2 separate regions of the Homo sapiens genome follow, and region 2 is linked to region 1. The links come from fine-mapping of genetic effects on gene expression. A gene starts in region 1. The other region holds a variant in brackets. All regions are shown on one strand. Distances are from middle to middle.

The links. PIP is the estimated chance that this variant, and not a neighbour inherited with it, causes the effect.
Region 2: its variant is the best candidate, but not a certain one, in a credible set for the expression of MGAT2 in esophagus muscle (GTEx, PIP 0.70).

What each region holds. Positions count from the first base shown.
Region 1 is chr14:49,619,642-49,622,547 of GRCh38, reverse strand. It overlaps MGAT2 (alpha-1,6-mannosyl-glycoprotein 2-beta-N-acetylglucosaminyltransferase), which reads right to left and starts at 1,749. Exons shown (of 1, transcript NM_002408.4): 1 at 1-1,749. The coding sequence starts at 1,279. RPL36AL (ribosomal protein L36a like) reads left to right here and starts at 1,922. Exons shown (of 2, transcript NM_001001.5): 1 at 1,922-1,986. RefSeq lists silencers at 1,258-1,367, 1,668-1,877 and enhancers at 1,099-1,649, 2,038-2,147.
Region 2 is chr14:49,546,952-49,549,857 of GRCh38, reverse strand. LOC107984701 (a long non-coding RNA gene) reads left to right here. Exons shown (of 3, transcript XR_007064154.1): 1 at 1-9. Among named protein-coding and RNA genes, the nearest start is that of RPS29, 38 kb to the left of the region's middle. The variant A/G (reference allele first, on the strand shown) is at 1,633.

The DNA.
Region 1 (2,906 bases):
TTCTAGGTGGGGAAATGGCTACCACAGTAAACTTTTCACTGATAGTTAGAGTTTCTGGAAACATGTATTGTTTGTTATTATTTAAGAGTGACTCAATTTGGGCACTCTGAGTGGATGGTCTACAGGTTTTCTTGTGATGCATACCACAGTCTCCAGCATGAAAGATCCTAGGAATTTGAGGAACCAGCACTTTCCAGAATTTTGGAAGACAAGATACAGTCAAGTATTGAAGAGTCCAGTCCCAGTTATAATCATCATAAGTACAGAAAGTGTCTGTGCACTCGATCAGCTTCTGATAGGCATTCCGGGTCAAGGCTAGACCCATATTGTGCTCTGTGGATTTCCAAGTTTTCACATCTACCTTGTCAGCCATGCCATAGAAACTGCGACTGGCACTATAGGTCCCCAGGGAGAGAACATCACATTCAGGGCACTCTTGCTGCTTCAGTTTCCACATCTTTTTGAAGACATGGTAAAAGTCTGGGGCTAAGTAGTGATCCTCTTCTAGGAAAAGTATAAGGCCAGCATAATCTCGAAGAATTTTCACTCTTTCCCACACAAAATGCAGCTTCCACCACCAGTGATGTTTGGTCTGGGAGAATTTGGCCTCTCTATAATGGCCGAAGGAGTCGGGATACTCAGCATTGATGCACCCCAATTTCAAAGCGGCATTCTTCGGCAGGTCTCTGGGACAATCTCTAGGGTCACTACCTGGAAACTCGTTAGGGTACAACTGAATGCTGAAAGGAAAGAACACCTGCAGAACCGGACAGAAATTCACCCCGGCGATCAGCTGATTGATCTCGGTCGACCAGAAGTCATGGCTAAAGATGACGAGGACGTTGTCAATTCCCTGGGCTTTTCGAAGTGAGTCCAGCAGCAGTCTGAGGTATTCGGGCCGGTTATGCACCTGGACCACCAGCACCAGCTCCCGGGGGGCCCAGGTGCCAGCCTTATCTACATTCCTCAGGGTCTGATCAAAGTTCAGCTGGTACACCAGGGACCGGTACCGCAGCGTCAGGTTGTCCGCCTCGGGCTGGGGGACCGCCGGGACCAGGGAAGCCGCCGACACGTTGGAGACCCTGCGGATGCCCACAGCCACAGAGGGGTGGTCCCCACCGCGGCCGCCGGCACCCCGCGCGGGTTCGGCGTCCAGCAACGGTGGGGCGAGGGCCTCGTTCTTCCTTTGTCGCCCATTGCTGCTCCAGAGGACGAAGCCGCAGGCGGCCACCACGAGCGTCAGGATTAGCACCTTCCGTTTGTAGATGCGGAACCTCATGGTCTCCAGGGCCGGGAGCGCAGGCGGGCGGGCGCGGAAAGGAGCAGCTGCTTCTGCACGGAAGGGGCGGGCGGGCGGCGGCCGTCGCCTTGGCCTGTCACGGTCGGAACTGGCCCCCGCGGCTGCCCTCGCTAACTCATCCCGGGCCCCGGGGGTCCTGGGGCCCGAGACCTCTCATTTACCCCGCGCCGCCTGCGCTCCACACATCCTCGCCTGGCAGCTACAGCTCGAGCATCGGCGCCGCCGCTAGGAGCCGCGGCTCGGCTTCGTCTCCGTCCTCTCCATTCAGCACCACGGGTCCCGGAAAAAGCTCAGCCGCGGTCCCAACCGCACCCTAGCTTCGTTACCTGCGCCTCCAGCGGCCCTGCGTCCTCTGCGCTCTCATCCTTACAGGGGCCCTAGACGGCCAGAACTGAGCGACGCGGCCTCGCCTCACTCCGGCGGGGACCGTTATGACAACCCGCAACTGCCCCGCGGCACACCGCGGCCCTCCGGCCCACACCCCTCCGGCCCGCCCCTTAGACCGTTGGTTGGTGCTTTCCAGACGCGACCGAAGGCGCCTGACCGCCGTGGCCGGCTGCCTATTGGTTTGCAGTACTGTCGCTCAGGTGCAGTTCCCACTTCCGCCTGTTTCTTCCCTTTCCTGTTAGGCGAGAGCTGCGAAAGGCGAGAGCTGCGAAGGGCCAGGTGTCGGGCGCTGTTTCTCGGTAAGCTAAGAACGAGGCTGTAGCGGCTCCAATAGGAGCCTCCCTTGCTCAGAATCCTGGGTAGGACTAGGCCTTCTTAGGAAAGGGAAGGCGAGACCTATGGCCCTCGCCGGCCTTAGTTCGAGAGCAGGCTTCTCCCTTCAGGAAAAAGGTCTCAGGCATGGCGGCTATAGAATCGCGGGGCGCGCCGGCTTGATAAGGACACGTCAGCCCTCGAGGCTGCTGACGGGTGACTGTGCTTCGGAGGGGAAAAGTGATACTACGCTGATGTGGTTCTCGTAGAAGGAACGGGGCGGGTCGTAACCGTAGCTACAACGTCGCGCGCTGCCCCAGCCATTCTCTAGAGCTGGAAAATGGAGGAGGTGGGTGGGGGGAAGGGGGTCAAAGAAACTCTGGTCCTTAACTTCCTTTTCGGAAGAAAATTAGATGAACCGCACTTTTCTTTTGGAGCAGTCACAATAAATTAAACTCATTTCGTACGGAAAACGGACTGTATTGGGCCTCCTAAAGCTGCTGCTGTCGGTTTTCGTGAGTCTTGTTCTATATGAGAAAAGAAGAATGGCTCGGAGCATTGTTAATTATTTGAGATGTGCAAAATTTGCCGGGCCCAGAGAGACAGCAGTATGGGACTTCAGACACCTCCCCACTTAATGCCTGGCATTTTATTCCTGACTAGCTGCTTCACCCATTATGTCCGCGTTCCTGGAATTTGTCATGAAAAGAATGATGTATAGCCAATCAATCGCTTGTGTTATTTTAATGTAAATTCTTGGTAGACAATTTAGGAACTGCCATTTTTTCCTCTAAAAACCCACTTGCAACTGCTGCTACTCAGGGCATTTTGAATCTGTGCTCTGGGTTGCAATCCTCAAACTTGCCCCAAATAAACATTCTACTTATATGAATTGTGCCTCAGTTCT
Region 2 (2,906 bases), 73 kb after region 1:
TGGGTAAATGTAAGTAAGGTGTTTCTTTGAGTTCTGTGAGCTGCTGTAGCAAATTAATCGAACCCTGGGAGGAAGTCATGGGAACCCTGATTTACAGCCTTTTGGGCAGAAGCACAGGTCACAACCTGGGGCCTGCAATTGGCATCTGAAGTGGGAGGCAGTCTTGTGAGAGGAGCCCTTAACCTGTGGGGCCTGATGCTATCTCCAGGTTGATAGCATCAGAGTTGAATTGAATTAAAGGGCATTTATTTGGTGTCTGCTGGAACACTGATTGCTTGATGTGTGGGAAGAAATCCCCAAACACCTGGTGTCAGAATGTTTTGTTGAGTCTATGAGAAAAGGAAAAACACTTCTTTTTTTTTTCTCTATCTCTAAGAACCACAGTTCCTGGTGTGTAGAGAATAGTCTGTACGTGATAGTTATTGCTACTACTGCATTTTGTTTATGTAACTTTGCACTTAAGTATACACATTTCTTTAAATCCTCACAACATTTTATCAGGTAAGTATTATTGTCTTCATTTACCTATGGTTGAGACTAGGTCAGACGGGTCATCAGCTTGAAGTGGGAGCCTGGAACTCATCCAGACCCAACTCCATGTCCAGAGCTCTTCCCAGCCACCATTCTGCTTTCCAAAAACAAGAAAAACTGCAAATGAAGAACCTTGGGTTCTTTTTGAAATGCAAGCAATTCTAAACTCTCCAAGAAGTAAAACCTCTTAAGGCAAGACAAGGTAGAAAAAGATGTCCACTAGCAAACCATTCAGAGAGCTGGGGGTCTGTAGGATTAGGGAATACTTATGATTCAGGTGCACAGTATGAACTGCCTGGAGGAGTGGGCAGAGCGTGGCTCAGTCCAGGATCTTGGTGAGCCTGCTATAAGGTCTTTGAAGGCAGATATCATCATCTTTGTACTCCCTGTCTTACTGCTTGGCACAGTAGGTGCCTCATAAGTGTTTGTTGACCTGTACGTACTAATACCCTATGAAAAAACTTCTATTATAATAACTATGTTGGGATGGTGTAAAAATTACTAATGTGAGAGTGTATTAGTCTGTTTTCACACTGCTGATAAAGACATACTTGAGACTGGGCAATTTACAAAAGAAAGAGGTTTATTGGACTTATAGTTCCACATGGCTGGGGAAGCTTCACAATCATTGTGGAAGTCAAGGAGCAGCAAGTCATGCCTTACATGGATGGCAGCAGGCCAAAAGAGAGCTTGTGCAGGAAAACTCCCCCTTATAATAACCATCAGATTTTGTGAGACTTACTATCACAAGAATAGCTTGGGAAAGACCTGCCTCCATGATTCAGTTGCCTTTCACTGGGTCCCTCCCACAACACGTGGGAATTCAAGATGAGATTTGGGTGGGGACACAGCCAAACCATATCAGGGAGTATTCACGGACATTGCATCCCCTATCCTGGAGCCCATTGAAAGAATTCTGCAGGGGCCAGCCCTAGTTTCCTATTGCCTTCTCTGCTGGTAAGTTTTCCTCTCTCTCTCTCTCTCTCTCTTTCTCTCTCTGTGTGTGTGTGTGTGTGTGTTGGACAGTTATAAATTAGACCCCCGTATTTTTCTGCTCAGGCTGCCATAACAGAATACTACAGACAGAGTAGCTTAAACAAT[A/G]GAAGTTTATTTTCTTATAGTTCTGGAGGCTACCAGTCTAATATCAATGTGCTGGTCGAGTTGGTTTCTGGTGAGAGTTCTCTTCCTGGCTTGCAGATGGCTGCCTTCTCGTTGTGTCCTCATAGTGCCTTTGTGTACATGTATTTCCAGTGTCTCTTCCTTTACTTTTTTTTTTTTTTGAGACAGAGTCTTGCTCTGTCACCTAGGCTAGAGTGCAGTGGTGTGATCTTGGTTCACTGCAACCTCTGCCTCCCGGGCTCAAGCTATTCTCATGCCTCAGCCTCCTGAGTAGCTGGGACTACAGGCATGTGCCACCACGCCTAAGTTTTGTATTTTTAATAGAGATAGCTTTCACCATGTTGGCCAGCCTGTTCTCGAACTCCTGACCTCAGGTGATCTGCCTGCCTTAGCCTCCCAGAGTGCTGGGATTACAGGCATGAGCCACCATGCCTGATCTTCTCTTTCTTTCTTTTTTGAGACGGAGTCTTACTCTGTCGCCCAGGCTGGAGTGCAGTGGCACGATGTCAGCTCACTGCAAGCTCCGCTTCCCGGGCCATTCTCCTGCCTCAGCCTCCCGAGTAGCTGGGACTACAGGCGCCTGCCACCACGCCTGGCTAATTTTTTGTATTTTAAGTAGAGATGGGGTTTCACCATGTTAGCCAGGATGGTCTTTATCTCCTGACCTCGTGATCTGCCTGCCTCGGCCTCCCAAAGTACTGGGATTACAGGTGTGAGCCACTGTTTCTGGCCCTTTTTTTTTTTTTTAAATAAGGACACAAGTTCTATTGAATTAAGCCTCCTTCCTTACAACCTTATTTAATCTTAATTACCTCCTTAAAAGCCCTATCTCCAAATACAGTCACATGGGGGGTTAAGGCTTTAATATGTGGATGGTGGAGGGGGAGCACAGTTCAGTCCATATCAACTCCCTTCAATGCTAATTGACATGTGTGGAGAAAATCTCTTCAAAAATTATTCTGACTACTAACCACTGTACTTTGACTGTGGCACAGTTCCAGGGCAGGCCCATGTGGTTTGCTAGTGCTCACCTTTTTCTACCTTGTCTAGCCTTAAGATGTTTCACTTCTTGGAGGGTTTAGAGTTGCTTGCAGTTCAAGTCTATACCTTACTAGAGTCACAAAGTGTCCTAAGTAGCAGAGCTGCCTTTGTGCATACCAGCACAGCTGGAGAAAGCTATCCTGGAACACAAATTCTCTTTGGCTTTGAAGTTAACAGTTGGTTGACTCACTTTGGAGTCTCATCCTTCACTGGTG